7 linked regions of the Homo sapiens genome follow. The protein of the gene in region 6 purifies or fractionates together with the protein of the main gene of each other region. This does not show direct contact. Each region holds a gene or a part of one and is shown on either strand. Other genes may lie near its edges.

Evidence for each region.
Region 1: the proteins of TRDN (region 6) and UGT8 purify together in Homo sapiens (co-immunoprecipitation; 3 studies listed by BioGRID and IntAct, with this or other methods). This does not show direct contact.
Region 2: the proteins of TRDN (region 6) and MANEA purify together in Homo sapiens (co-immunoprecipitation; 3 studies listed by BioGRID and IntAct, with this or other methods). This does not show direct contact.
Region 3: the proteins of TRDN (region 6) and PXMP2 purify together in Homo sapiens (co-immunoprecipitation; 3 studies listed by BioGRID and IntAct, with this or other methods). This does not show direct contact.
Region 4: the proteins of TRDN (region 6) and ABCB10 purify together in Homo sapiens (co-immunoprecipitation; 3 studies listed by BioGRID and IntAct, with this or other methods). This does not show direct contact.
Region 5: the proteins of TRDN (region 6) and GOLIM4 purify together in Homo sapiens (co-immunoprecipitation; 3 studies listed by BioGRID and IntAct, with this or other methods). This does not show direct contact.
Region 7: the proteins of TRDN (region 6) and MPV17L2 purify together in Homo sapiens (co-immunoprecipitation; 3 studies listed by BioGRID and IntAct, with this or other methods). This does not show direct contact.

What each region holds. Positions count from the first base shown.
Region 1 is NC_000004.12:114,601,497-114,605,766, forward strand, and holds part of UGT8 (2-hydroxyacylsphingosine 1-beta-galactosyltransferase precursor), read left to right. Parts: intron 1-4,270. UniProt on the Homo sapiens protein: Catalyzes the transfer of galactose to ceramide, a key enzymatic step in the biosynthesis of galactocerebrosides, which are abundant sphingolipids of the myelin membrane of the central nervous system and peripheral nervous system.
Region 2 is NC_000006.12:95,575,627-95,580,482, forward strand, and holds the start of MANEA (glycoprotein endo-alpha-1,2-mannosidase), read left to right. Parts: upstream 1-1,908; 5' UTR 1,909-2,012; intron 2,013-2,596; exon of another isoform or gene 2,597-2,685; intron 2,686-4,856.
Region 3 is NC_000012.12:132,693,822-132,698,091, forward strand, and holds part of PXMP2 (peroxisomal membrane protein 2), read left to right. Parts: intron 1-2,062; coding exon 2,063-2,225; intron 2,226-4,270. UniProt on the Homo sapiens protein: Seems to be involved in pore-forming activity and may contribute to the unspecific permeability of the peroxisomal membrane.
Region 4 is NC_000001.11:229,527,229-229,531,498, reverse strand, and holds part of ABCB10 (ATP-binding cassette sub-family B member 10, mitochondrial), read left to right. Parts: intron 1-1,090; coding exon 1,091-1,300; intron 1,301-4,190; coding exon 4,191-4,270.
Region 5 is NC_000003.12:168,032,870-168,037,139, reverse strand, and holds part of GOLIM4 (Golgi integral membrane protein 4), read left to right. Parts: intron 1-145; coding exon 146-304; intron 305-4,270. UniProt on the Homo sapiens protein: Plays a role in endosome to Golgi protein trafficking; mediates protein transport along the late endosome-bypass pathway from the early endosome to the Golgi.
Region 6 is NC_000006.12:123,500,442-123,504,711, reverse strand, and holds part of TRDN (triadin), read left to right. Parts: intron 1-810; coding exon 811-993; coding exon of another isoform or gene 994-1,061; exon of another isoform or gene 1,062-2,884; intron 2,885-4,270. UniProt on the Homo sapiens protein: Contributes to the regulation of lumenal Ca2+ release via the sarcoplasmic reticulum calcium release channels RYR1 and RYR2, a key step in triggering skeletal and heart muscle contraction.
Region 7 is NC_000019.10:18,191,024-18,196,017, forward strand, and holds the start of MPV17L2 (mpv17-like protein 2 precursor), read left to right. Parts: upstream 1-2,194; 5' UTR 2,195-2,258; coding exon 2,259-2,445; intron 2,446-2,840; coding exon 2,841-3,011; intron 3,012-3,753; coding exon 3,754-3,830; intron 3,831-3,934; coding exon 3,935-4,063; intron 4,064-4,975; coding exon 4,976-4,994. UniProt on the Homo sapiens protein: Required for the assembly and stability of the mitochondrial ribosome. Is a positive regulator of mitochondrial protein synthesis.

The sequences.
Region 1 (4,270 bases), on a different chromosome or scaffold from region 6:
TCTCATTTATTTGACCTCATCTGCATTGGTACTTATTTACATAAGCACATTTTCTCGGTAGCTGACTCTTCACACCGTTTATTACTGAAACTTAAAAAAAAAGAGCCATTATAACCCACAAGCAATTTCTAAATCTTACTGTCTTCCTTGTTCCCTTGGAGAATATTGGATATAAGTTATTCTTTCTTGTTGGGTTGTCTTTATGAATTCATAAAGAATTGAATAGTGCTATTCGCTGAGGTGTATAGAGCTGTTTTTGTTTATAGTAAATGGTCTCAGCCTGCTGGGTTGAAATACTAGAATAGAGACAGAAGTACCATTCTTCTTTTTATGTTTTTTTTTTTTTTCTGGGTCCTCTTTCTGTTATTGGCTATCACTTTCTGCTGCTGTCAGACTGTGAGTGGGCCCTGCTGCTCTATTATCTGTTGTCTTTTTTTCCATCAAATGATGTGGGCTATTGCCCGAGTGTAAATCCTGTAGACTTTGTGACAGACACTTTCAGTTTACGTGCTTTATTTGTGGTTTGGACTGTGAACTGAAATGTTTAGGTTTCCAGAAGGGTGACCTCTATATAAAAGGTTTTAATGTACCTTTTATAGAAAAAATTTGTGTATGAGATCTTTAGGAGGGTGTATTAATTTCAGACAATTCAGTCTTCTGGAATATCTTGGTGTTTCTGAGAAACTGAAGCAGCCTTTAAAAAAAAGTTTACTTTCTTATGATAGGCCCAGATCGTCTTTGTTTAGGAATATGTATACTAGAATATTTTACATATTACTTTCTGCCATTGAAACTTACTAACTATAATGTAGTGTAGTTAATATTTTTCTACCCCGGAAGTCCAGAATAAGAAGTATGATTTGAGAATCCTGCTAACCATACTTGAGGCTACATGAATTATTTAAATATTATTTTGCAAATCTACTTATGGAGGAGGTACATAATCAAATACATATGATTAAAATGGTTTAATTTGATCTTGAAAACAGTGGTAATCATATCTCCTTAATCTGAAGCATTTCACAAACATTCATTCTTTTATTCAACAAATATTTGTTAAAAGCATACTGTGTGCCAAGCACTGTGCTCTGGGGATGTGCATACAATTAAGGCCCTGGGAGGGCTCTAGGTTTAAAAGGGGGAGACAAGGAGGAAACAGGCTATTTTCAATATCTACAGTATAGTGCTGGCTGTTCTGTAAGTGCCGTGATAGAGATACACACACAGTACCCTGAGCAGAAATTTGGAAGTGGTCAATTCTGTGTGGGGACAGGAGATTTGAGGGTTTCTTAGAGGGTGACATAAAAGATGAATCACTGGAGGCAGGAGCAAGATCATGGAGGGCTGTTTGCCATTCTCAGGAGTATGGACTATTTTCAGTTTAAGGTTGTTTTAAACAGAGGAGCTATGTGATGAGAAAACAGCTCTTACAGCAAGCAATCTAGAAGGATGGATCTGAGGAATGTGAGATTTGGATGGTAGTTTAGAAGATATTGGGGTGGCTTTGGTAAGAGAGGTTGAGGTCCTTGTACCAAAGTGTTGGCAGTGGGATGAAAAAAAGGGGTTTGGTTACAACGATATTCAGGTGGTAGAACCTCTAAGATTAGGTGACCAATTTGGTTGGAGGATTGGGAGTGGGTGGTATAGGAGGATGGGATGGGAACTTAAAAGGAGATCCAGATTTGAGAGCAAGAGTGATAGAGTTCAGTTTTAGACATGTAGAACTTGAAGTGCTTATAGAAAATCGAACTGGAGATGTGTGTCCAGTGAATCATTGTATGTGAGTTCTGAGCACAGAGGTCCTGGGCTAGATAGGCAGGTAGATAAATGGTAGGTAGATAAATGGATAGACACACAGAAACATTTAGGAGTTTTCAGTGTATAGGTAATTATAAACCGTGAAAGTTGATAGGTTTTCCAGGGCAAGTACCAAAAGTTAATAGGGAAACAGAGGCCTGGGGAGATCCTAAAATTTAAGAGTTGGGTAGAGAAATAGGAAGCAATAAAGAAAAACGAGAAGGTACAGAACAAGAGAGGCAAGAGGAGAGTTAGGAGGGTGTAACTTTTAAAAGCAGCTGAAAACTGAGAAAATTTCAGAAAGTGAGAAGGTCAGGTACTGAAATGAGGGGGTGTTAGACAGTCTCGGTTCCCACCCCCTCTCGAGCCCCGAATAGCTCTGTGACCTTGAGCTCACAATTTAGTTTCATTTCCTCATTTAGCAAATGAGGGGAGAAGCACCTACTTTATAGGGCTACTGTGAGGATCAGATGAGATAAAATCTATCAAGCACAATGCCTGGGAGGTTACTCCTTTGTGTTTAACAAATGCTACCTGTTTTATGGAAACCAGGACTTGGATTTGTGATTAGAAGGTCCGTAGTCATTTTTGCTTTCACAAGTACTCGCTCTCAGAATTCACAGAGAGTGATTGAAAATATATTTTTAAGATGAAAATTTGATCATACTTTTAACTTTTTTGGTTAGAGGCCAGTAGAATAGCAGCCATTGAAAGTTTTGAAGGGAGCAGAGGGAGCCAACTGAACAAAAGTCCTTGAAGAGAGAGTGGAAGTTGCCTCAAGAGCGTTGCAGAGATGTTGGGTTTCTCAGGACAATCCATGCTTCCGCCAGTCAGGAGGGTCTGGTGGCATATGCATTGTGTTTAAAAAGCACCTGGTAATTAAACCTCCAGGTTTCTAATGTCTTGTTTAAAGTACTCTTAGTATTTTAAGTGTGTTCTAGTTCCTTAGATAATCTATAAGGACATTGATTATACATTTTAGTATTAGCTGAAAATAAACTCAGAAAACAATACAGATGATTTCAAAATTTAACAAAATGTAATTTAATATTTGATGATTCCAAAGGCACCTCTATACCTCATAGGGTCTTAAAAATCAACATGTGAAAAATAATTATTAGCCTGTGTAATAGGGGAAGGACTGATTTGTAGAGGTTTGTTTGCTTTTTTTTTTTTTTTCCCCCAATTAAGACTACTATGGTAATATTTAAATATACCTACTTTTTTCCTAGGATTTTCTGTTTGGATGAAGTGATGCTTTATATTAGAGATTAATAAACATTTTAAATTAGATTTCTATTTTAATATGTGTATAAGTTTTTTACTCTGTAATTACTGCATAATTTGAGAAAATGTTTACATCTATGCAGTGGTTTGGAAGTCAACCAACAATTGCACATAGTACATATTGTTTACTAATTGGTTATAAGGCATATAATAAATATTTGTTGTCCCAATACATGTTTGTTGAATAAAACAAAATTAGATATTCCATATTTTTAAGATGAAATGAATTTTATATCTGTAGTTTTAATATTTAATCATATTCTTTACCTGAAAATCGCTAGCCATACTTTTCGTTTTCAGCACTTCTCTATTTTGCAGTTGTGTTTCAGTGCTTTTTTTTTTCCCACTGTGCTTAGTCCTTCACGATTTATGGCCCTGTTATTTGTAAAGCATAGTAATCTAAGCAGGTGATTTTCAGTTTAGGATTTCTTCTAGTTCCATGTTGTATATTCACCAAGTCAGTTTTAGACTATATATTGTCATGCTCAGCACTCCCTTACAGAGATAACAGATGCCAAGTTGAAATTGACTTATACAGAATGCCACACTTAGGTAAGTGTTTAGGAGTGCATAGCCAAAATAAAAATGGTACCTTTGGTTTATGAATGGCAGGGCATCTAGGACAGTGTAGGTCAGTTCGTATTCTCTGGATGGACATTTATGTAAATATTAAAACATTTAGATTAGATGGAAAGATGTATAGTAGGAACATTTCAGAGATACTGTTTCCTTGTAGCATTGTACTATTTATCTGAATTGTTAATTTGGAATAATCACTATATTGATTTTATTTTGAAGATATAATTTATTTCCATTGACTTGATATAAATAACAGAAATGCATCTGCAAGGAATCCAGTTCATTAAAGAAATTTACATTCGTATCTGATTTGGTAAATATGTGCTTGATTTGGGAATATTATATAACAAAATATTTGTGAAATCATTTTGTACTTTTTAATTGTTTTGAAGAAATTTAATACTCAAAATATTTCAAGACACCAAATCATGACTTTTTAGTTATTACATTAAGCTATAACTTGCTTTAATGAGTAAAAACTGTGGGGCTAATTTTCTTCCAAGTGAAACATCAAGTTTAAATAATGTGCACATGAATTTACAAAGTAGAATCAAGTGTGCAAATATGCTATATGTTCTGTAATAGGTTCTTGAAAAGCTGTATATAA
Region 2 (4,856 bases), about 28 Mb from region 6:
AATTAGAAAATAGAGTTTAAAGAGAGAGATCTCTAATTTTAGTAATAAAACTAGGAGGCAATATAATGAAAGATACTCAATAAATTACAAAGCATAGTAGCACATAAAGTACCTGAATAAAATAAATATACCATGTTCATAGATAAGAAGACATTTCACTAAATCTCTAAATGCAATTCTCAAGTTGAATAAAATGCCCAATTGAAATCCAATTTTTTAAATGGATCTTGGCTGGCTCATCCTAAAATTTCAATGAAAGAGTAAAGAGCCAAGTATAGTTAAGGCAATTTTAGACAAGAATCATTAGGAGGAGGGGTTTGCAAAATGTTTTAATACATAGAGTTGAGTGCATGGGTGTTCATTATATTATTATTTGTCCTTTCTGTGTTTAAAGTTGCTACAATTAAACTTTTAAACTTGTAGAAGAAAGAATAGTTTCTGATGTTATGTTGGGAAGAATCTTGTAAGCAAGAAAGCAAAAAGCACAAAATTAAAATGTAAAATATTATTAAATTCAAAAAGCTGTATACTGAAGCATAAAGCTTTTGGCAATCAAGAAACATCATAAAAACTGGAAAGACAGTCCATAAACTAAGAGAAGACATTTGCAACACATGTAACTTACAAGAGAGAATTAAACTAGAAAAAATAAATATTATCTACAAAATAATTTTCAAAAGCAAGCAATTTAATAAAAAATGAGATAAAATTAAGAACAGGCTTTAGCAAAAGGGAAAATGCAAATTAAAAGAGCAATCAGATGCTCTTATCAGCAAAAACTTAAAAAGTCTAACAATAGCATAAGGGTAACGATGTGCCAGTCTAGTTTATGGGAAATGGACTTGTATACAGACGAATCTCAAAACCTCTCAAAACCTAAATTAGTGAAAAAAGGGGAAAAATGAAGAATGATTCACATATGAAATATAAAACTAGGAAAATAGTATTTTTAGGGAATCGTACATATGTAACTATTTTCAGAAATACAACGGAATGAGTAATATAAAATTCAGCATAATGGTGAACGGAAGGAAGGAGATGTTTTTAGAGAGTCTTCTTTCTAGAAGACTCCAAAAATACTGGCATTTTTTTTTTCTTAAGCTCTGTAGTGGGTACCTGGGCATTTTTCATTCTTCTTTAAGATATGCACATGAGATATACTCATATGTATATTTCCCAATTAAAATTGGTGTACAAAATCTTTTTAAGGAGAGCCCTTATGAAACTGTTCACATCAGCAAGTTCTAGCTTGAATAAGGACTTCCTGTTACTATGTAACCAAACAAAAGATAGCATTTTCTTGTTTTCTGAAGCTAATGTAAGATGGAAACCTTCAGTTGTAATCCTATTTCAAAAGTTCTTGCTCTTCACATCTGACTTATCCTCAATTATTTCTAGTACTTCAGTACAGATGTGATTTTATAGAATACATTCGCAAATTAAAAACGCCATCTCCATCTGCCTACCTTGGGCTTCCAAGTAAAGTTCTATTTTTACAAAAATCAAAACAGTTCCTCAACTTTAAAAGTTTGAAAACCAGTGTACTTGTAAAGCACTTGATGCAAGCAACTTCTGAATGTTTCACATAAAAACAAACAAAAATGTGTCCTCTGTAATACAGTTAGAGCCTCCCAACAGAGCCTCAGAAGACCGTTTCTAAAGGCAGTGAGTTCTACTTGCAGAAATAGGGCGGGAGTGCAGTCTGACTCCAATCCACACGTCCTTCCCCTCTGACAGAACGCCCCAAAACGCAGTCCTCTCTTTCTTCCGCGCCGCTCCCGCCCTAGTCCTCTTAGACCCGCGACCGGAGGCTCCGGAAGACCCCGAGCCCCGCCCGCTCCGTGACCCCGCCCCCACCCGTCCCGCCCCTGAAAGCGCCCGGAACGCTGTGCGCGCGCCTTCGGGGAGGAGGGGCTGTCTGGGCTCGGGGCGCGGCGGCAGTCAGCTCTATGTTCGCGGTCTTAACCTCTCCTCTGGCCGAGTCCTTGCAAGAAGTGAATTACCCGACCCTGGTGAGTAGCTGCAGGAGTCAGACCTCTTGGAGGCGGCGGCGCCAGCAGCGGCGGCAGGCACGAGGTCCACCGCGGGCGCCTGCGCGCTCGCCCGCCAGCCAATCTGGTGGCCGCTTTCCTCCGGGCGCCCTTTGACCCGGCGCCCCTCTGGCAGGCGCTGGTGGCGCCCAGCGGCGAGCCTGTAGCCCCCTCGATTAACCTAGGCTGTCACTCTTAGGCCTGTTTTAGTCTGCGTTAGTTTTACTGCCTTTTACACTGCTTTATCCCCACCTCACTGGCCTCGTCGCCGCCTCCTCTTTGAAACGGTACCTCCTGTCGCCTCGGATTTTCCTTGTCTCCCCGACAAGGTGGAAATTTCGGGTCGGATGGAAGCCTTTTTCAGCACCTTCTCCTTGTGCCCCCAGACTGCCTCTGGGCCTTGAGCCGACCGGGAGAGTAGAAGGATCGAGGCCTGCTGGGCTCTGGGTGCAACGGAAAGGTAGCTGTCGCCTCTGGGCATCGGGAGGAGACCGCCCGATGGCGAGGCCGCTAGAGATGGTTTTTCAGTTCACCTGTTAACGTGTTTGGCACTGTCATCTTAGACTCTTAGCCTTTGCTAAGTCGGGATGCAACAGTGCTGGATTAGTGTTTTTGTTGTTCCTTTTTCCAAAGAAGCAACTTGAAGTACAGGCAGGTATAACTGTTTGGTTTTGTTGTTGTAAGACCCTACGGATAAGTGTTAGGAGAAAATGTGGAAGTGCTATAAAACAACAACAAGGGGGGGATAATGTTGATTAAGAACTTGAAAATAAGAAAAATGGGACTGGAATAGGCTGTTCACGTTAAAGTATTGAGGCAGTAGTTTGAAACAAAAATATAAAGTAAAACCTAGATATTGGTGATACTGTATCACGTTGTTTGCAAATCACTTTCATGACAATACATCTATTTCAGGTGTATCACACCTGAAAAAAACATGAGTGCTGTGAATTTGTGGATTTTCAGGCTCAATGCAGAAAAACACCCCCCAAAACAAAAAATCACAACAATGAAAACACCATTTCCAGAGCTGTTGCTGTTATTCGTGTGACGAATAGTGAATGTATGATCATAAAATAGAATAAGCTGTCTTTAGATGAAGTTTGGGCACAGTTTATGGAGTAGGTAACAGTTAATCATTGTTTATTAGGTACATAATCCTTAATTGAAAACATAACCATATAGCAGCAGCTTTCATCTTGTGTCACAAAAATAACTGGTGTATCCTCTAAATTTGATTTGTCTAATACCTTAAAGGAAGGCAGAATAGCATGGACAAGAACTTGAGTTCTTGAGCCAGACTCGATCTGCTCCTTGCTAGGTGATTAACCTTAGATTGGTTTCTTGGCCATTTGCTGGCCCAGAGATTTTTGAAAAAGTTACCAACTGCTCAGCTTCATCATTTGTAAAATGAGGTTAAAAAAAATTCTGCGGCCTGGCGCGGTGCCTCACGCCTGTAATCCCAGCACTTTGGGAGGCCGAAGTGGGTGGATCATGAGGTCAAGAGATCGAGACCATCCTGGCCAACCAACATGGTGAAACCCTGTCTCTACTAAAAATACAAAAATTAGCTGGGCGTCGTAGCGTGCGCCTGTAGTCCCAGCTACTCTGGAGGCTGAGGCAGGAGAATCGCTTGAACCCGGGAGGTGGAGGTTGTAGTGAGCCAAGATGGCGCCACTGCACTTCAGCATGGCAACAGAGTGAGACTCCATCTCAAAAACAAAACAAAACAAAACAAAAAACAGAAACTAAACCTCACTGAATTTCTGTTAACCAGAGGGTACAAGTGTTTACAATAAAACTGACCTGGGCAAGGATTGATTTTGAAACTGATTTTGAAAGTTCCAGATGTGTCTTCTAGTATTGAGTTATATTTATCTCCGGTGGCTTCATACAAAATAAAATTAGAAGAAAACAATATATTTTTTAAAAAAAGCACCAGAAGTCTGTGTGATTTAATTTAGTTAATTGAAAGGGAAGTCTTTTTGGCTTTTGTGAGTTACATGATAAAAGCAAATAATTTTTGAAGTACTAATTCATACCACCCTGCTTCTGAATCTCTTGGGGTCTCTTAGCTAGCTGGATATGTCCAATAATTTTTTATTAGACATCACTAAGCTTCAAGTCAGCATTTCAAAGGATTAAAAGCACAAAACTCAAAAAATAGAAGCTACAGGTTCAAAAGAACCTATTGTGTATGAGTAATGTAAACAGTCTTTTGAGGAGAAAACAGATTTTCAGTAGCCAATACTTTGAGTAGGTCCCTGCCTTGGAAAGATATATCTGCAATAAACTTGTAATATTTTCTCTATGGTGACTTATAATACTTTTCTTTTATTGAAGCTAAATTAGTTCCTCCACCCCTTTCCTGCAAGATCAGACATTTTAGGCATCTCAAGGGTCATTGTGGTTTTACAGCGTTGAAGATGATTTTTTTTATTAAATTGGATTTTTAAAATTATTGGATCTTTACGATTCTTTATAATATGTTCAGTATACACCGTAAACTTATCAAGTGTGTATACGGTCAGTAGTCTATATATACACACACACACAGATATACATATATATATATACACACACACTGCCTGAATACCAATGAAACAGCAAAGAGCCAGAAATTAACTTTTTTAAAGCTGAACACTTAATGAACACTATGTGAAAGATATGTTATGCTCTACTAGAATGTGAAGATAAAGACTCCATTTCTGAAACTTAAGGAGCAATCTAGTAGGTGATATAAAGATAAATGCACAGCATGATATAATACATAAGGAATGACAATTTGGCCGGGCACGGTGGCTCACACCTGTAATCCCAGCACTT
Region 3 (4,270 bases), on a different chromosome or scaffold from region 6:
GCTCCCTTGCCAGTTAGTTAGTGAGCTCCCTTGCCAGTTAGTTAGTGAGCTCCCTTAGCCAGTTAGATAGTGAGCGCCCTTAGCCAGTTAGTGAGCGCCCTTGCCAGTTAGTTAGTGAGCGCCCTTGCCAGTTAGTTAGTGAGCTCCCTTAGCCAGTTAGTGAGCTCCCTTGCCAGTTAGTTAGTGAGCTCCCTTAGCCAGTTAGTTAGTGAGCGCCCTTGCCAGTTAGTTAAGTGAGCGCCCTTAGCCAGTTAGATAGTGAGCGCCCTTAGCCAGTTAGTGAGCGCCCTTGCCAGTTAGTTAGTGAGCGCCCTTGCCAGTTAGTTAGTGAGCTCCCTTAGCCAGTTAGTGAGCTCCCTTAGCTAGTTAGAGAGCTCCCTTGCCAGTTAGTTAGTGAGCTCCCTTAGCCAGTTAGTTAGTGAGCTCCCTTAGCCAGTTAGTGAGCTCCCTTGCCAGTTAGTTAGTGAGCTCCCTTGCCAGTTAGTTAGTGAGCTCCCTTAGTCAGTTAGTTAGTGAGCGCCCTTGCCAGTTAGTGAGCGCCCTTGCCAGTTAGTGAGCGCCCTTGCCAGTTAGTTAGTGAGCGCCCTTGCCAGTTAGTGAGCTCCCTTAGCCAGTTAGTTAGTGAGCTCCCTTAGCCAGTTAGTGAGCTCCCTTAGCCAGTTAGTTAGTGAGCGCCCTTGCCAGTTAGTTAAGTGAGCGCCCTTAGCCAGTTAGATAGTGAGCGCCCTTGCCAGTTAGTTAGTGAGCGCCCTTGCCAGTTAGTTAGTGAGCTCCCTTAGCCAGTTAGTGAGCTCCCTTAGCTAGTTAGAGAGCTCCCTTGCCAGTTAGTTAGTGAGCTCCCTTAGCCAGTTAGTTAGTGAGCTCCCTTAGCCAGTTAGTGAGCTCCCTTGCCAGTTAGTGAGCTCCCTTGCCAGTTAGTTAGTGAGCTCCCTTAGTCAGTTAGTGAGTGCCCTTGCCAGTTAGTTAGTGAGCGCCCTTGCCAGTTAGTTAGTGAGCGCCCTTAGCCAGTTAGTTAGCTCCCTTAGCCAGTTAGTGAGCTCCCTTAGCCAGTTAGTTAGTGAGCGCCCTTGCCAGTCAGTTAGTGAGCGCCCTTGCCAGTCAGTTAGTGAGCTCCCTTAGCCAGTTAGTTAGTGAGCTCCCTTGCCAGTTAGTTAGTGAGCTCCCTTAGCCAGTTAGTTAGTGAGCTCCCTTAGCCAGTTAGTTAGTGAGCTCCCTTAGCCAGTTAGTTAGTGAGTGCCCTTGCCAGTTAGTTAGTGAGCTCCCTTAGCCAGTTAGTTAGAGAGCTCCCTTGCCAGTTAGTTAATGAGCTCCCTTAGCCAGTTAGTTAGTGAGCGCCCTTGACAGTTAGTTAGTGAGCGCCCTTGACAGTTAGTTAGTGAGCTCCCTTAGCCAGTTAGTGCCCTTGCCAGTTAGTGAGTGCCCTTGCCAGTTAGCCTAGTGAGTGCCCTTGCCAGTTAGTTAGCCTAGTGAGTTCCCTTGCCAGTTTGTTAGCCTAGTGAGTGCCCTTGCCAGTTAACCTAGTGAGTTCCCTTGCCAGTTAGCCTAGTGAGTTTAATGAAAAGCTCCACAACCAGGGACATGTCTGATGATTCATTATTGAGTGCTTCTCGAAGCCTGGCCCTGTTCTGGGCACTGCAGTGGACAGAAGACGTAGCCTCCCTTGTGGAGCCTGCCTTCTAGGGGGGACGAGAGGCACAGACTAACCTAACATATGAGATAAGGACAGTGCTAGGCAGAAAATGAACCAGGGCCAAGAGTGTTAGCACAGGCGTGCACACGTGCTGGGACGACCTGGAAGCTGACAGTGTGAGGAGGAGCGAGCCAACATAGCTAGGCGGGGACGCGCTGGGAGCAGAGAGTCAACGGCAGGAGCAAGTCTGGTCTGTTAGAGCAACAGAGACAGAGCGCCCCTGAAGCCGACTTATCTGTACAGACCTGTGTGGCCAATACTGAGGGACATCAGGAAGCAGGGGTTAGGACCTGGGATTTGGGGGTGAAGCTAGACCAGAGAAGAGCACATCCAGAGAACCACAATCTGGCTCACACCCCCTGGGGGCCTCAGGTTCTTCTTCACAGGGCCGCTGAGTCACTTCTTCTACTTCTTCATGGAACATTGGATCCCTCCTGAGGTCCCCCTGGCAGGGCTCAGGAGGCTTCTCCTGGACCGCCTCGTCTTTGCACCGGCCTTCCTCATGTTGTTCTTCCTCATCATGAACTTTCTGGAGGTGGGTGTCTGCCACAGCACTTACTGCAGCTCTTCGTTTAGCACAGGGATTCTTCACCTGACATTCTCGGCAGAATTCAGAGGGTCTGCAGATTTTTCACTCAAATTGAAATTTTGCATTTTCTTTTATGAATATAGGAAGCAAACATCTAGTATTGGCAGGACCTGTTTGTACCCAGTAGAGTCACTTTATTTATTTATTTATTTAAAGACAGGGTTTCACTCTGTCACCCAGGCTGCAGTGCAGTAGCACAATCATAGCTCACTGCAAACCTCAAACTCCTGGGTTCAAGCGATCCTCTTGCCTCAGCCTCCCAAGTAGCTGGGACCACATGTGCGTGCCACCACACCCAGCTAATCAGATATTTTTATATCACATCAGTTGTTACAGATATCTCGAAATATAATTTATGCTCATTACTACTTGGACCTGCCATTAGAGGTCTTGTCACTGTGTAAAGAAAGAAACAGGCCGGGCACAGTGGCTCACACCTGTAATCCCAGCACTTTGGGAGGGCGAGGCGGGTGGATCACCTGAGGTCAGGAGTTCGAGACCAGCCTGGCCAACATGGTGAAACCTCGTCTCTACTAAAAATACAAAAAATTTAGCTGGGCACAGTGGCAGTCGCCTGTAGTCCCAGCTACTTGGGAGGCTGAGGCAGGAGAATGGCGTGAACCCGGGAGGTGGAGCTTGCCGTGAGCCGAGATGTCGCCACTGCACTCTAGCCTGGGTAATAGAGCCAGACTCCGTCTCAAAAACAAAAAACAAAACAAAACAAATTAGCCAGGTATGGTGGTGCGTGCTTGTAATCCCAGCTACTCGGGAGGCTGAGGCAGGAGAATCGCTTGAAGCCGGGAGGTGGAGGTTGTGGTGAGCTGAGATTGTGCCACTGCACTCCAGTCTGGGCAACAGAGCAAGACTCTGCCTCAAAAAAAAAAGAAAAAAGAAAAAAGAAACAGGGCCGGGCATGATGGTGCACACCTGTAATCCCAGCACTTTGTGAGGCCAAGGCCAGTGGATAGCTTGAGGCCAGGAGTTCGGGACCAGCCTGGGCAACATGGCGAATACCCATCTCTCAAAAAGTAAAAAATGAGCCAGTGTGGTGATGTGCACCTGTAGTTCCAGCTGTTTGGGAGGCTGAGGTGAGAAGATCCCTTGAGCCCAAGATGTGGAGGCTGCAGTGAGCAGAGATCACACCACTGCACTCCAGCCTGGGTAACAGAGCAAGACACTGGTTCAAAAGACAAAAATAAATAAATAAATAAATAAACACATTAGTCTGTCAAAATTTTTTCTGAATATTTTGATAACTGTATTTCAGTATTATTGGTTCCTTTGTAGTCCTATTTTATTTATTTATTTATTTATTTTTTATTTTTGAGGCAGAATCTCGCCCTGTTGCCCAGGCTGGAGTGCAGTGGTGCGATTTCAGCTCACTGCAACCTCTGCCTCCCGGGTTCAAACGATTCTCCTGCCTCAGCCTCCTGAGTAGCTGGGATTACAGGAGCCCGCTACCACACCCAGCTTATTTTTGTATTTTTAGTAGAGATGGGGTTTCACCATGTTGGCCAGGCTTGTCTTGAACTCCTGACCTCGTGATCCGCCTGCCTTGGCCTCCCAAAGTGCTGGGATTACAAGCGTGAGCCACTGCGCCCAGCCGTATTTTATTTTATAGATTACAAAACATTCTGAGAAGGGGGTCCACAGGCTTCACTAAACTGCCAAAGAGATCTGTGGCACAAGAAGTTTGAGACCCCTACTGATAACACAGAAGAGTTCCGGGCCTGGAGGTTAACCTACCGGCATAATCCCAGTCAGAATCCAACGCATGGGAGGCGTGTTCACCTGCACTCAGCAGGTGTGTCTGTTCTGACTGTCCCACCTCCCCCGTTCACGAGCACCTTCAAATCCTCACCATCTCTAGGAGCACCAGCCAGGTTGTGCTGTGTGTCTGAGACGTGTCACCTTTTTTTTTTTTTTTTTGAGACGGAGTCTCACACTGTTGCCCAGGCTGGAGTGTAGTGCGTGATCTCAGCTCACTGCAA
Region 4 (4,270 bases), on a different chromosome or scaffold from region 6:
GAGGAGGTGGTCAGGTTTTCTATGAGAGGGGGTGGGACAGCTGCTGGGGCACTGTTGTGGGCCAGGGTGTCCCTGGATGCATGGGCTGGCCACATAGTGTGCTGCCCTCTGTTCCCCTCCCTCCATCTGGGTGTTACCGCAAAGGGCAGGATGGAAGTCAGTGTGGCCCAGGGCTGTGTCCCAGCTAGTTTACCAAATTGATCTTCCCTAGTGATTCTGACATCTCTGTGGAGGGCTAGGGTGGGAATAAGGGAGGAGGAATCAGACATAAGAAAATATCTAAGTTTCTTGGCATTTTGGTGTGGGGTAGGGGAGGCTGGTACTCATTGGCTGGAGCCATCTCCTTCCTTATCAGTGACTTCCCTGGAGCTGTAGGGCCTAAACCAACTAGCCAGGAATCAGGAGAAATGGCTATGAGTAGTAACCACTCCCAGCTGCTTATTGACTTCCTAGGACATTGTCAGGTAGCCCCAGGTCCATAAATGAAAGCCCAATATTCTCCAATGTGATAGGCCTAGGAAATAGGTCCAGCTGAGAGAGTTTCAGTAGTGTCTCCCAAAGCACAGTAGGTGAACACCAGGGCAGAACAGACCTCTGACCCCTCCAGTTCTGCGGCTGCTGTGCAGCGCTCCCCGTTTCATCATAACTCTTCCAAAATATTTATTCCGGGTAGGTAAGATAAACTCTGGAGCTACACAGAGGCAGTGGCATAGAGAGAAGGCCATCGGATTTGAAACCAGACTAACAAGGGTGGATCTTAACTCCACTACTTGTTAGCTTAAGCAGGTTGTTGTCTGTGGTCTTCAATGTCCTCATCAGCAAAATTGGAATTATAATTTCTACCTCTCAGGGTTGTAAGGATCAAGTAAGACCGTCTACGTATATAGTACCTTGGACATAGTAGGTGCAGAGTTGGCACGTGGTAAGCATTTAGCCTAGGTTTGCTTCTGACTTGCCCTTTAAGAGCTCATATACCAGGATTAGCTGTGGTGGAGTCACCCATCCATAGCCAGATGAGTAGGAGAACCGAGTTCAGCTTTTGAGTTTAATTTTTTGCTGTAAGTAATTAATATTCCATTTTATGTTTCAGAGGGGGTCATCTTAAATGAGAAAAGCTTCCAGGGTGCTTTGGAGTTTAAGAACGTGCATTTTGCCTATCCAGCTCGCCCAGAGGTGCCCATATTTCAGGATTTCAGCCTTTCCATTCCGTCAGGATCTGTCACGGCACTGGTTGGCCCAAGTGGTTCTGGCAAATCAACAGTGCTTTCACTCCTGCTGAGGTTGTACGACCCTGCTTCTGGTAAGCAGTTCACCACACTGTAGCACCGAGGGACTCTCCCGAGCTCTGCTCCCACTTTTGCGCCCTAGGAGATGCTCAAACCATGCAAATACCTTATTTTGTAGAGTACCTTCTTTTCTAAGTGCCAGTGGAAAGAAATCCCTCAAACAGAAGGTGTCATTTGCAGGGGCATGACAGCTCATACAGAGGCCTTTAGAGCTTTTTGTGTGTAATGTGTCCTACCTCTTCAAGCCCAGAGTGACTTCCCCAGATCTACCTCCTCATCTCCCATGCGGGTATCTCCTCTGGACATGCCCTCTACTGGGAGCAGGTGGACGAGGCTGTGCTCAGCAGCCAGGACAGAGTGCCTGGGGTGCTCCAGCAGCACCCTGGAGAACCACCGTGTGCCAGTGCGCGTGCTGGGCGCAGGAGTGATAGGGAGCTCCTGGAGAACCTCTGCCTCTGCCTGTGAGCCATTGAATGCTTATTGTGCACACAGTTAACTTGGCCATCAGTGATTCACTTCTTTTTTTTTTTTTTTTTTTTTTTTTTGAGACAGTCTTGCTCTGTCGCCCAGGCTGGAGTGCAGTGGCGCGATCTCAGCTCACTGCAAGCTCTGCCTCCTGGGTTCCCGCCATTCTCCTGCCTCAGCCTCCCGAGTAGCTGGGACTACAGGTGCCTGCCACCACGCCCAGCTAATTTTTTGTATTTTTAATAGAGTTGGGGTTTCACCGTGTTAGCCAGGATGGTCTCGATCTCCTGACCTCGTGATCCACCCGCCTTGGCCTCCCAAAGTGCTGGGATTACAGGTGTGAGCCACCGTGCCTGGCCAGTGATTAACTTCTATGTGACTGTTCCATTGAAACTATTTTGACCTAGTAGGGATTTTCTTTTTTTTTTTTTTTTTTTTTTTTTTTTTTTTTTGAGACGGAGTCTTGCTCTGTTGCCCAGGCTGGAGTGCAGTGGCACGATCTCAGCTCACTGCTGCAAGCTCCGCCTCCCGGGTTCACGCCATTCTCCTGCCTCAGCCTCCCGAGTAGCTGGGACCACAGGCGCCTGCCACCATGCCCGGCTAATTTTTTTTGTATTTTTAGTAGAGATGGGGTTTCACCGTGTTAGCCAGGATGGTCTCGATCTCCTGACCTCGTGATCCACCCTCCTCAGTCCCCCAGAGTGCTGGGATTACAGGCGTGAGCCACCGCGCCCAGCCGGGATTTTCTTAATGGATGATTTTTCTCATTCTAGTTTTTATTTTATTTTTAACTGGATTATAACATCTTTAAGAGCAAAGAGCACATGATTTTACTTCTATCTTCCCTGTAGTAGACAACAATGTCAGCAAGCAAACAACTCTTAGTAAAAATCAAATCATGAATTTAGAAAGAATATTTTGGCCAGATGTGGAGCCCCACACCTGTAATTGCAACACTTTGGGAGGCTGAGGTGGGAGGATCACTTGAGGCCACAAGTTGGAGACCAGCCCGGGTAACATAGTGAGACCCTGTCACTATTTATTAAAAAAAAAAAATTCTGTAATTTAAAAAATGAATGTTTTGTGTCTTTGTGCTTATGCTTTTTGGTTAAAACAATGTGAGAGCTGGTTACATGTCAGATAAATATGTGACTTGCAAATCCTGACCCATGGAATCACCACCTGTGTTAAAATGGGGCTTACTACATTGTTTGTCTCTGGAATCACTTTCTTGATTCACCATTCACTTGCTATAAAATTTGGAGTTTAAAAAAATCCTAGTTAGCTGGGCACAGTAGTTCACACCTGTAATCTCAGCTCTTAGGGAGGCAGAGGTGGGAGGATAGCTTGAGCCCGGGAGTTTGAGACCTGCTTGGGCAATATAGTGAGACCTTGTTCTCCATAAAAAGGAAAAAAAAAAAAGACCAAAAAAAATCCTATTTAGGTTGCTGTAATTCAAGTAAAAATACTGAGTCTCTAGTTTCTTCATCACAATGAATAAATCCAGGACAAAGCAAACTGCAGTTAAATGTCTGCCATGTGTAGTCTATAAAGAGCTTTGTGCTTTTTCGTCAAAGACCTCAAGTTTTTGCCAGTTTGTGAACATTTCCAGCTGGCTTCTATAATTCCACAACATTAACTGAGAAGAAATGGCATTTCTTATGCTGTCACTGTTGTCATCATCACCAAGTTTTGTTGAGCACCCTCAATGTGAAGAATTCTGTTAGCAAAAGTCATAAAGATAGCGTCTGATTATTTAAAAGCTCTGCCATGGTATCGACCAGATTCTTAGTTGCAGACAACAGATTCCTCACCAACTAAGCTTATTACAGAAAGGGATATTTTAAGGAGTAATAAAAGAGCTCAAAAATCACTGGCAGGAATGACAAAATAGATTCTAGATTGTACTTCCAGGACAGTTTGCAGAACTCCACCCCAGAACCAGGCCTTCAAGGTAGCTGCTGACACTGGCATGGTCAGGAAGCTACAAATTTAGGCAGTTGCTGTCATGAATGCCAGCTTCAGAGCTGTGCCACCTCTGCCAGTATTCGTGCCAGCAAGTGGATGCCTCATGGCTTGCCCCTCCCTTCTGAATTAAAGCTTTGCACAAGTGCATCTTATCGGTGGAATCCTAAGTCACTAGGGAGTTTTGGGAAAACTCCCTACAACCTCCGGAGTACAGGAAGGCAAGCTGGACAGATGGACTCGGTGAGATAGTCATCCAGCTACTATCGGGAGACAATAACTTGGACAATCCAGAAAGTCCCTTTTAGCTCTGAAATTTCATGAAATATGTTAGTTTTAGAGTCCATCTGGAGATTTTCAGTACATTTTGATCTTTAAAAAATGAGTCTGGAATTTTCCCACCGGATCCTTTCTGTGTTGGTCATCAGCCTCATCACACTCAGTGACTCTTTCCTTTCCTTTCCTCTCAACAAGGAACTATTAGTCTTGATGGCCATGACATCCGTCAGCTAAACCCAGTGTGGCTGAGATCCAAAATTGGGACAGTGAGTCAG
Region 5 (4,270 bases), on a different chromosome or scaffold from region 6:
TAGTGAATGCATGGAAACAATCTGTATGTTTTTCTAACTTGTATTTAGGTACAATATTTTTGTCTAGTTTTACAGTGTACCCAAATGCCCATCTATGAATGGGCATTCATAGATTCCCTCCTCAAATTGTGCAATTTATATGCAGACTCAAGTTGCAGAATATAAACAACTGAAAGATACTCTGAATAGGATTCCAAGCCTTCGAAAACCTGATCCAGCAGAACAGCAAAATGTGACCCAGGTGGCACATTCTCCACAAGGTTACAACACAGCAAGGGAGAAGCCAACCCGAGAGGTGCAGGAGGTAAGGGGCGTGAACTGGTAATCTATGGTTAGGTCACTTTCTCTGTCAAGTTGCCAAGAGGGGACCTGCTTTTAATATTGCCAACTTTTCTGGGAGAGCAGTAGTTCTCAAATTTTAGTATATCAGAATTGCCAGTAGGGCGTGATAAAACACAGATTACTGGGTCCCAGGCCCAGAGTTTCTGATTTAGTTAATTTGGAGTGAGGCCTAAAGATTTGCATTTCTAACTGATTTAGCTGGTCTGAGTAGCAAACTTTGAGAACTGCTGCTAGTATTTTCTTTCTTTTTTTCTCTGAGACAGTGTCATGCTACGTCGTCCAGGCTGGAGTGCAGTGGCACAATCTTAGCTCACTGCAACCTCCGCTTCCCGGGTTCAAGCAATTCTCCCTGCCTCAGCCTCCCGAGTAGCTGGGATTATAGGCGCCCGCCACCACGCCTGGCTAATTTTTGTATTTTCAGTAGAGACAGGGTTTCGCTATGTTGGCCAGGCTGGTCTTGAACTCCTGACCTCAGGTGATCCGCCCGCCTTGGCTTCCCAAAGTGCTGGGATTATAGGCGTGAGCCACCACACCTGGCCGCTGCTAGTATGTCTGAGAAAGGCTTTAATGGCTTTGTCTTTATTCATGTAGGTTTATTTGTCTTCAAGGAGTTGTAGTATCTGAGTTTTTCAAGGTTGGGGATTTTGCGGGGGTTAGGGTGAGAACGTTAAATGATCATGAGGATTTTATGTGACAGTCAACCCACTCAAATATTAAAGTTAATAATATATTTTAACTTGGAGCAGTGCTAGGTCTACACAGAGCATGTCAAAATTTGAATTAAATGACCTGTTTGACACTCCTACGGGTATGAGTGCTAGTCAAATAATACACCTTTTTATATTCTTGTTCTTTATAAAAATTAAGCCTTAAGAATATCTCATAAGTGAGACATCAGAAGTAGTTACCATTACCACTAATTTCTACAAAGGTTGTTTTTTTTTTTTCCAATCATCTGTAATAAAAAAATAGGCAATATGGTTATCTTTCTGACAAAGTGGTTGTTTTAAACTTTTAAGTTCAGGGGTACATGAGCAAGTTTGTTACGTAGGTAAACTGTGTCATGGGAGTTTGTTGTAAAGATTATCTTATCACCCAGCTATTTAGCCTAGTACCCATTAGCTATATTCCTGCTCCTCTCCCTCCACCTTCTGATAGGCCGTACAGTGTGTTGTTCCCCTCTATGTGCTTATGTGTCTCATCATTTAGCTCCCACTTATAAGTGAGAACATGTAGTATTTGACTTTCTGTTCCTGTGTTGGTTTGCTACAGATGATGGCCCCCAGCTCCATCCATGCCCCTGCAAAGGACATGATCTTGTTCTTTTTTTATGACTGCATAGTATTCCATGGTGTTTATGTATCACATTTTTCTTTATCAAAGTCTATAATTGGTGGGCATTTAGGTTGATTCCATGTCTTTGCTATTGTGAATAGTGTTGCAGTGAATGTGTCTTTATAATGGAATGATTTCTATTCCTCTGGGCATATACCCAGTAATGGGATTTTGCTGAGTCAAATGGTATTTATATCTTTAGGTCTTGGAGCAGTCTCCACACTGTCTTTCATGATGGTTGAACTAATCTGCACTCCCACCAACAGTGTATAACCATTCCTTTTTCTTCACAACCTCGCCAGAATCTGTTATTTTTGACTTTTTAATAATAGCTCTTCTGACTGGTGTGAGATAATATCTCATTGTGGTTTTGATTTGCATTTCTCTAATGATCAGTGATGCTGAGTTGTTTTTTTTTTTTTTTTGTATGATTGTTGGCCACATATATGTTTGTGTTAGTCCGTTTTCATGCTGCTCATAAAGACATACCCTAGACTGGTTGATTTAAAAAAGAAAGAAGTTTAATTGGACTTACAATTCCACATGGCTGGGGAAGCCTCACAATCATGGTGGAAGGCCAGGAGGAGCAAGTCCCATCTTCCATGGATGGCAGCAGGCAGAGAGAGAGAGCTTGTGCAGGGTAACTCCTCTTTTTAAAACGATCAGATCTTGTGAAACTTGTTCACTATTGTGAGAGCAGCACGGGAAAGACTTGACCCCATGATTGAGTTACCTCTAACCGGGTTCTTCCCACAACACGTGGGAATTCAAGATGAGATTTTGGTGGGGACACAGCCAAACCATATCAGTGTCTTCTTTTGATGTGTGTGTTCATGTCCTTTGCTCACAAAGTGGTTTTTAACATTAAAGAGAAGACTGAGAAAACTTTCCTCCAAGTTATGGGAATAATTAAGTTGATATGAGTAGACTTCATATATGAGCCTCTTCACTCTGTTCAGGGTATTCCTTCAACAGACAGGTTCAGTATCTTCATGGACTCTTATTCTTTCTCAGGCTCTTATGTTAATAACTAAAGAGAGCATGACCAGATCACTGGCCTGGCAGTTGGTTCTATTTTCTGCCCTTGTCAGACTGCCAGTTTACTGGATTAATCTTCCAGTGACTCAGATCTTCAGTTTTTCCATCTCTGAGGTGGAGATAGGAGTTATCTGCACTAACCTTCCTCACTAGGATATTGTGAAGATAAATGACAAGTGTTTGAAAGTACTTAGAGCTCTTTAGAGAAATATTTTTCTGTAAAGCCAGGGCAGTATTATGTCAAACTTGCCAGATATGTGAGGATGTCGGTGGAATGTGCAACTCCAGTTGTCCTCAAATGTCTGAGAAAGGACTTTTCTCCCCAGTTTATTAATACAGTCCAATTTCTCAGATTTGATAATTATATCTCTGCTAATTTAAGAATAGGATTTCACATTTATTTCAATTTTGGGAGAGCAGTCTAACCAAAGAAGATTTTTTTTTCTGAAGGTTAAAGAGAAAAAAAGAGTGACGTTTGTTTCTGTTGATATACTATATTCTCTTTCTTCCTCACTTTCTAGGTAGTGCAGATCATATAGAGATCGCTGAAACTTATAGGGAGAACTGATTTGAGTCAACTAATTTTAGAGGAGGGTTATTCTGAAAAAGCCATTTCTTCTTTTTCTGCTCAGGGTTTTCAATATTAGCAATAAAAAATGTTTACAAAAGAGTCCTGCTGGTTTACAAATAATTACTACTTTAATACATTAAAAATATTTTATTGTATCTTGTTTAACAGGCACTGTGTTGAACTAACATGGATGTTCATTAGTAATGGCATTCTTTTTTTTTTTTTTTTTTTTTTTTTTTTTTTTTTTGAGACGGAGTCTTGCTCTGTCGCCCAGGCTGGAGTGCAGTGGCGCAATCTCGGCTCACTGCAAGCTCCGCCTCCCGGGTTCACGCCATTCTCCTGCCTCAGCCTCCCGCGTAGCTGGGACTACAGGCGCCCGCCACCACGCCCGGCTAATTTTTTGTGTTTTTTTAGTAGAGACGGGGTTTCACTGTGTTAGCCAGGATGGTCTCGATCTCCTGACCTCGTGATCCACCCGCCTCGACCTCCCAAAGTGCTGGGATTACAGGCGTGAGCCACCGCGCCCGGCCAATGGCATTCTTTTTTAAATTAGTAAACCAAACTAGTAAAAACTAAACCCAACTCCTCAATTTTATTTCATCCTTCTCTTTTCAAATAATTACTGAAAACAAAATTTACATTGAAGAAAATTATGTAAACATTTCATCACTTGAAGTTTGAGGTTTTGTTCCTTTTTATTCTAAGGGAAAATAGGAATTAGAGTACTTCTGAGATATTGGTTACTTGGAGGTTTTATTTTCCAGGTTATTTACTGTATTCTTCACAGATGAAGTTTTGCTTATATTATGTCTATTTTATAAGTGAGATTACACAGTAAGAAACTTAAGTGACTCCATTGCAGCCATAAAGCCAGGACTATATATATTTCTAGACACCTTCTTCTGTTGTAGCCCCATGCCCCATAGACATGGAAATCAAGAAATTACATCATTACTTTTGAAATTGGAAGAGTGTCATTCCCAG
Region 6 (4,270 bases):
TCCAAAATACGGATAATATCAAATTAAGAATATATGTGTGTAATATATATATGTTCTAATTTATATATCTATTCATATATATTTTTATTTATAGCCCTTTGAATTTCCCATGATATGTTTAAGGGCTTTAAAAACTAGTAGAATTATCGCTGACTTAAGATAAACAGGAGCCAATATCTGAATTTCTTCACTTTCAGTTTTTCTAAGGCCAAATCATTAGACTATAGGTCTTTCAGTTATCTTCTAATGGATTTCATTGTTTTATTTCTGTTAGTCAACACCAATGCGATAATTTTACACTTGCATTACTAATTGTTGTCTTTAAAAAAGACTTTGTTGGCATTTCAGTTTCTTGAATGACCCTTAAGATCTTTCAGTTATCAAGCAAAATGATCATGTGCTTATAAAAGGAGACTACTTCACTGGGCTGTTTGGTATGGAAATTGTCTTTCACAGAAATTCCTGTACATCCATCCCCTGCATGCTACAAATGCCTCCTTGTTGACATGCTAAGTTACTATTGCCTTAAAAAATAGTGTTTTCATGTACAAATTAAAAGCCATAACACTTTTAGTAGTCTATCTAATATAGCACTTCATAAACTGTATAAAACTCTGGTAAGTCACAAGTGTTTATGTTAAGAACAGTATTTTTCATTGTTTTCCTGAAAAATACTGTTCTTAACATAAACACTTGTGACTTACCTTTCTTCCCTCTTTCTTTTCCAATTTTCCTTAATGACATAGTACAGATGAAACATTATGTTTGTAAATAAACAAAAGTATTTCAACATCTTTTAACTTTATACAGAACAGAAGAAAGCTAAGACTGCAGAAAAGAGTGAAGAAAAGACTAAAAAGGAAGTGAAAGGTGGAAAACAGGAGAAAGTGAAGCAAACAGCTGCAAAAGTAAAAGAAGTACAGAAAACACCATCAAAACCCAAAGAAAAGGAGGACAAAGAGAAAGCAGCTGTGTCAAAGCATGAACAGAAAGGTAAACATTCAGAGCAGGAGGCTGCCGGAGGTTCTAAGAGAATATTGGGCAAGAAGCACATGCAGTGAAATTAAAAGTTGAAAAAGACCAAAATCAGACTTCAAATGGGGGTAAAAGACATTAAAGTAAATATATCAGAAAAGAAATACAGTAAATTGGGAATTAATATTTATTTATAAAAATACTAAAATGTGTTCACAGATCTAAAGGGGCATTTTGAAGTATTTTTAAAAGGGGTTTGGAGGTAGCATCCGAAATCATATAAAGATTGGGGATAAATGTTGAATTTTTGAGATATGGAATGTCTATTAAGAGGTGGAATAAAGATTGTATGTGTCATACTCTTTGGAGGAAAGTGGTCCCCCAAAATGACAGCAATTCCTAAGGAGTTTGTGAAGGGGTACATGTTGGAATCATATAGAGTAAATATCATAAAAACTATCCATACATTACTGTTGCATTGGCAAGAGCACATCATTTAGAATATACATCCAATTATTAAATTTATTTAATAGGCAAGATGTTATAGAGAAGACAGTTCTCAAGTTTCTTTTTCAGTTTCCATTGACTAAATTTCTAACTTTAGAAAGCTCTGAATGTGACATATTTCGCCATTCTTCAGCAAGAGTGATGTCAAACTTACATCCCCACTTTGCAAAAATATATCACTTCAATGGAGGTGGCATATAAACCTGAATTTTTATTTTATGGAAGGTTGCTATGTGAATATACAGAGCTGAAGGTTTAGGAGGGCAACTAAGGGTCTTATCGTACCACATCTCTGGCCCTTATTGAATGTTTCTTTTCCTAAGTCCATTCCTGACTCCAGTTTGCTGTATAATCCTGAGACTCCTTTACAGAATACGGGGATCTAACATGTAGAGACTATTCCTGTAATTGGTGTTTCTTGGAGACATTGCAAAACCAAATTTTTCTTTACTTTGTAGCACTTTTGACTAATGTTATCTAAGGACTGTATCAAAGAATTGGTTTCTATTAGATTTTAGTTTAAGAAATCTTACAATTTTATTACAGAGCAGGCTATTTGGAGGATGAAACTGAAATTAATTTTTCCTCATAAGGCACAAGAAATGAAATTTGCAATGCACTCGTACTGTATTTTCATCTTTTTTCTCTTGAATTTGCATTTGTAAACTTTGATTCACATGTAGTATTTGTCAACTCTGATTTATATGACAAAAGATACATATTTTAAAAATATATATTTTAAAAAGGAAAGATTTTTTCTTTTTTTAGTGATCTACAAACCTTTAAATTTAGATAATTTTAATTTATTATTTTAAGATATAAGTCATATTAAAACTTAGGAGCTCTAAAACTTTTTCCAATTTTCAAGGTGATTATATCACCATGAAAAAAATTTAAAAGTTAATTATTACTTCCATCAAAATTATGTCATTAATGAAATATTTTGGTAGACAAAAAGGATGAAGTAAGTAAAGAGAAAATACGTTGAATATAATATTTTACTGTGGTAAAAAAACAGCAGAAATAATCTTTGGATTCACTGGTATGATTACTTAGATCCTGAAATCCTTTACACTTTAGATTGCTGTTCAAAAAGAAAAATAATCACATGAAATCAGTGAAAACCTACAAAGTACATTCTAATTTTTAACCATAAATACAGAGTGTAAAAATTGATGCCAGTTATATTTGGAAATGTCAAAATACTTATCTAACAACTAGGAATGTGAATGTATTTTTTGATGTTAATTTTTCATATCTTTGGGGATTTGGGAGCCACATTTTATTGATAAAAACTCATCACCGGAACACTTTAAAATAATGTTTATTTTCCAGGCCACAAATATTGTATTTCATTTCTATCAGTAATCAGATTTATTAAAGACAGCATTATATTACCATATCCCTTTTCAGTCTACTATTTTTATTTCTACACAAAGAGTTATTTATCTATTAAAAGGACATTCAAATATCATTTAGAGTTTAAAACAAAAGCACAAATGTGATTTTATCAGCTAAACAATTGCAATTGCTAAAGCAAGTCTCAGTATTGAGAACAATTGCCATCAATTATATAAATGTATCATTAGGTAAGTATTCAAAACTTAACCTCTAATGGCAGATCAGACATATAAATATGTCATTTTATTTTTCATTTTTTGTTACTAAGCAAAGATTTAATTAAGAGCATTTTTAAATTAAAGAAAACTAATTACATTATGATTTTAGCTAAGCAAGATAAAGATATAGTTTTTTTTAATTTCTGAGGCTTTGGTTTTGAAAATTTTATATGATGACTTAGTTGAGTTAGCTCAACTAAGCTAACTGTTGAGTTAGCTTTTTGGGCAAGAGAATACTCATTCACATAGTTAAGTTAGACCTAATATGTTTGAGGCATTCTTTTCATATAGATTTCTAAATACTTCTTTTTAAAGAAATAAGGCTCATAGGTCCTTTACTCACTTGGAAACAGATTTTCACATGGGACACATATTTATTAGTAATTATTTAATTACATAGTATACATATGAATATATTCAATGTAGTTACTCTCAATATTGTATATGGAAATAATACATCTCTTTTTCTGCTTAAAGCATTAGGGATAAGATGCATATGTATATACACACCTACCATAAACACACACACACACACAGACACACACACACACCCATCAAATAATCTAGTTTTTATGAACCCATCTAAATCTGTTTGTAGAGTAGGAAGAGTTGGCATAGTCAGACATTGCTCCCTAGTTTTCTGATGACCTCTAGGAGGTCTGTGGGGAAGGAGAAACGAATTTTCCAGCTGCCACACACTTTGCTCCTTCACTCATTCTTTCTTTTAAAACAACTATTTGATATTTGTGGCAGGCAGAGAAAGTATAGCTAATGTGAATCTGTTATAGAGTACTGGACCACATGTGCCCCATCCTCATTACAGGTTTCTTAAAAATTTTTTGTTGTTCTTGACATTCTGCACCCAGAATGTATTTTCCCTTTGTTACTATTCCACAGGGAACACCAACTAGGTATCATTTGAATGACATCTATCACTGCTTCCTGAGAATCAAGAAGGAGAGAAATGGACAGCATGTGTTATTCCAAGAAGGATGTTTATTTGGGGAAAAAGTACTTACAATGATGAGCAAATTAACATTATATAAATTATTATCTCAGAACTATGAAAGTTAGAATGGCAGGACAATTTAGATTTTCTTTGTGAAAAATTTTCTGCTATAATATTTAAGTTGGGTTTAAAGAAACATTTTTAGAACACAAATCTTTCA
Region 7 (4,994 bases), on a different chromosome or scaffold from region 6:
CAATGACGTTTGGCTTATTCTATGACCTGAAAATTATATGAAATGCAAATTTGTGTCCATAAGTAAAACTTTATTGAAACACAATCATGCCATTTGTTGACAAAAAGAGTGAAACTCTGTAAAATATGGGCCGGGCGCGGTGGCTCACGCCTGTAATCCCAGCACTTTGGGAGGCCGAGGCGGGCGGATCATGAGGTCAGGAGATCGAGACCATCCTGGCTAACACGGTGAAACCCTGTCTCTACTAAAAATATAAAAAATTAGCCGGGTTTGGTGGCGGGAACCTGTAGTCCCAGCTACTCGCCAGGCTGAGGCGGGAAAATGGCGTGAACCCGGGAGGTGGAGCTTGCAGTGAGCCAAGATCGCGCCACTGCACTCTAGCCTGGGCCACAGAGCGAGACTCTCTCAAAAAAAAAAAAGAAACTCCGTAAAATATTTAAAGAGGTTAATTCTGAGCCAAACGTGAGTGACCACGGCCCTAGGCACAGCCTTTTTTTTTTTTTTTTTTTTTTTTTTTTGAGACAGTCTCGCTCTGTGGCCCAGACTGGAGCTATCTCGGTTCACTGCAACCTCCACCTCTCGGGTTCAAGAGATTACCCTGCCTCAGCCTCCCGAGTGGCTGGGATTACAGGCGCCCACCACCACGCCCCTGGCTAATTTCTGTATTTTTAATAGAGATGGGGTTTTACCATGTTGGCCAGGCTGGTTTTGAATTCCTGACCTCAGGTGATCCAGCTGCCTCCGCCTCCCAAACTGTTTGGGATTACAGGCGTGAGCCACTGCGCCTGGCCAATCCCCACCTTCTTGACTGACCATTTAAAAAATGTAAGAAACACCTTTAGCTCATCATGAGCAGCACAAAACAGGCAGGGACAGGATTTGGCCCTGAGGCAGGAGAATAGGTCTGGAGGCAGGGAACATAAGGCCAAATCAAATGGAAACAATTCAGCTATGACAGGAAATATCTTCTCCATTTAAAGAGGGCATACATCCAGTAAATGACTTTGTAACTTTACTTCATCCTCTTCATTTACATAGGACGTACATTAAGTAACCAGTGAAAACCTCTAGAGGGCATTTAAACCCCAGAAAATTCTTAAACAGGTCTCTTGAGTCCGTATGCTCCACTGGCTCCCACCCTGCGGAGTGTACTTTCGTTTTCAATAAATCTCTGCTTTTGTTAAGCTTCATTCTTTCCTTGCTTTGTTTGTGCACTTTGTCCAATTCTTTGTTCAAGATGCCAAGAACCTGCACACCTTCAACAGTTAACAGCCCACAGGCAGTAGTTTGCGACTCTAGTAGAGAATGCATAGGGATTTCCATTGAAAATCATTTTTTAAGCCAGTTACGGTGGTTCACGCCTATCATCATCCCAGCACCTTGGGAGGCCAAGGCGGGTGGATCTCTTGAGGTCAGGAGTTCGAGACCAGCCTGGCTAACATGGCAAAACCCCTGTCTAGACCAAAAATACAAAATTAGTTGGGCGTGGTGGCCCGTGCCTGTAATCCCAGCTGTTTGGGAGGCTGCGACACGAGAATCGCTTGAACCCGGGAGGGAGAGGTTGCGGTGAGCCGAGATCGCGCCACCGCACTCCAGCCTGGGTGACAGAGCGAGACTCCATTTCAAAAAAAGAAAAAAAATAATTGTTCCCTACGGGAACGGTATAATTAGGATATAATTGTTTCTGGCCACAGATCACATCCCTTCTGGTTAAGTCCAGGAGAATCTGGAAATACGTAGGGCAACCAGGCCAGAAGGCGTTGTAACTGCCTAAGATTGACCAACCCTAACGCGGGAGGCGGGACGACGGTCACTGATTTGCCAGCGTGACGCCGGTCTGCGACTGGCCAGTGCCGTCCTGGGCGTGTCGGTAGGACGGGGCTGCGACGGTTTCCCATAGGCTGGCACAGAAAGGGGCGGGGAAACAAGAGTGCAACGTTACCAATCGGCATGCGGGACGTAACGCAATTCTTTTTTCCGATTGGTCCGTGAAGCTCGGGAGGTCGTTGGGGGCTCGACCTTGGGATAGAACGCCTGCCTTTTATTGGTCAATACTCTTCGGGCCGGGCAATGTGGCTCCCCGAGGCTGCCTGCGATTGGTGAACGCGTCGCGGCTCGGGGCGGACCTGCGGACTGAAGATCCTTATGCGATTGGCCGGGGAGCCGGAGGGGCGGGCAATTTGGGATCGACAGTGACTCGCGACTGGTCGGCGCGGCGAAAGCAGAGCGGCGCGCCGGTTCCTTGGTTCCTGAGGGCGATGGCGCGGGGTGGCTGGCGCCGGCTACGCCGCCTGTTATCCGCGGGGCAGCTTCTATTCCAGGGCCGCGCGCTGCTCGTCACTAACACGCTGGGCTGCGGCGCGCTCATGGCGGCCGGTGATGGCGTGCGCCAGTCCTGGGAGATCCGCGCCCGGCCCGGCCAGGTTTTCGACCCACGGCGCTCCGGTGAGGACGCCACGCTGCTTAGTCCTTCACCCCGGGCGACCTTTGATCCCGACACCCGACTGCGGGCCGTGACCCCTGACCCGTGGCCTCAGTCCCCCGCAGGACCCTTGCCCTGACCGCGCCTCTCCCCGGGTGTCTGTCTCCCCGCAGCTCTGGGTCTCCATCACCTCCCAACCCCCGGAGGTCTCTGCCCACTACCCAGGAGCCTCTGGAGCCGCGCCTCCTGGTGGGGCTTGTAGTGGAAGAATGCACGGGTGGGCTCTTCCGGTTTTCCCGGTGAGGCTGAGGCTCCGGGATGGCATTGGGCTTACCCAGGCCTTAGCCAGGGAGGGAGAGAGGGAATGGACTGAGGAACTTGCCGGCCCGACCCAGCCCCCTGACTTACACTCTTATAGCGAGCATGTTTGCGGTGGGCTGCAGCATGGGTCCCTTCCTGCACTACTGGTACTTGTCGCTGGACCGCCTATTCCCTGCGTCTGGCCTCCGAGGCTTCCCAAATGTCCTCAAGAAGGTCCTCGTGGATCAGCTGGTAGCCTCTCCATTGCTGGGCGTCTGGTACTTCTTGGGTAAGGAGCCTCCTAAGCCTAGGCTTTGCCTCTCATAGGTCGGGAGGGGTGGAGCCAGCTTTGTGTTAAGAAGGATGCAGAGGTGCATTTCCAATTTGCCCCCTGTTTGGGTCGCCCTGGACTAGGAGCCAGGTCACAGCGGGGACAGGACGGACTCGGCCGATGTGAACGCTGGCGAGTGTAGGAGGGACGAGGACTGTATCTGTTGGGGCTGCCCTGGGCGGGAGGTTGAGAGCATTTCCCAAAGAAGGGGACCACACTCAGTTGAGACATGAAGAGGGAACCAGCGGGCAGAGGGAACAGCTAATGCAAAGGCTCTGAGGCCTGAAGGAAGAGAAATTGAGGCTAGACTTAATGGGGTGCAACCGTGCCAGCCCTAGGCTCGGTAAAGACAGCGGTATTAATAGAGGAGTCTCTCATTCTCCACCTCCCAGCCCGGCTTCCTGGTCTGTGATGGAAAAGTAACACAACTCCCTCAACTTCAGGGTGTCTCCATTGGGGCACGTGTTTATATGTTTATAACCTCTCTTTCTCTCACTGGGACTGACTTGCTCTGTTTTGTCTCTACACCAGCTACCCTAATTCTCTGTCCATCCCATCTGAAAGTCCCTGTCCCTCTGCCCGGGGTGGGCGGCGTGGGCTCTCAGGGGCCCAACCCCGCCCCCTCCATCGTCAGCCCATCTTGTCGTCTCAACAGTACTTCCTGGCCTCTAACACTCTCATTTCTTGGTTTGCTTCCCAGGCCTTGGCTGCCTGGAGGGTCAGACAGTGGGTGAGAGCTGCCAGGAGCTGCGGGAGAAGTTCTGGGAATTCTACAAGGTGGGAGCACCCGCCCCTTGCACATGTCCGGCCCCGCCCCCTGATGGCCGCTCCGCCCCCGCCCAGCTCTGGCCCCGCCCCTCATCCCCCGCCTCTCCCCGCAGGCAGACTGGTGCGTGTGGCCTGCTGCGCAGTTCGTGAACTTCCTCTTCGTGCCCCCCCAATTTCGAGTCACCTACATCAACGGCCTGACGCTGGGCTGGGACACGTACCTGTCCTACTTGAAGTACCGGGTGAGTGTGGAGGGCATACCAGGCACCCAGGGGACTCCCCAGGGGGCTACACGTGTGAGCTCCAAGTGGCAGTGTAGCCAGCCACCCTGGAGGGTGGGAGTCTCCTGTGCTCCTGACAACCCACACCCAACAGTGGGCTGGCGGAGAGCTCCTCACTAGCAGTTAAGACCCAGCCGTGGCTGAGCGCCGTGGCTCATGCCTGTAATCCCAGCACTTTGGGAGGCCGAAGCGGGTGGATCGCCTGAAATTGGAGTTAGAGAGCAGACTGGGCAATATGGTGAAACCCCTTCTCTACTAAAAATACAAAAAATTACTGGTACGCACCTGTAATTCCAGTTACTTGAGAGGCTGAGGCAGGAGAATTGCTTGAACCCAGGAGGCAGAGGCTGCAGTGAGCCAAGATCATGCCACTGCACTCCAGCCTAGGTGACAGAGCGAGACTCCGTTTCAAAAAAAAAAGACCCATGCCGGGCGCGGTGGCTCACGCCTGTAATCCCAGCACTTTGGGAGGCCGAGGCAGGCGGATCACGAGGTCAGGAGATCGAGACCGTCCTGGCTAACATGGTGAAACCCTGTCTCTACTAAAAATACAAAAAAAAAATTAGCCGGGCGTGGTGGCGGGCGCCTGTAGTCTCAGCTACTCCGGAAGCTGAGACCGGAGAATGGCCTGAACCCGGGCAGCGAAGCTTGCAGTGAGCCGAGATCGCGCCACTGCACTCCAGCCTGGGCGACAGTTCGAGACTCCGTCTCAAACAAACAAAAAGACCCAACCCTTCTCTGCTGTCTGATGTGACCTCAGCCCGGTCCCTGCCAAGTCTGTTGAGCAGGGCTGACCTCTGGCCCAAGGGCAGGTAGAGGGACAGGGAGGGATGAGCCAGGCTTCTGACCAGATGCCTTGTCTTGTGTGGACAGAGCCCAGTTCCTCTGACAC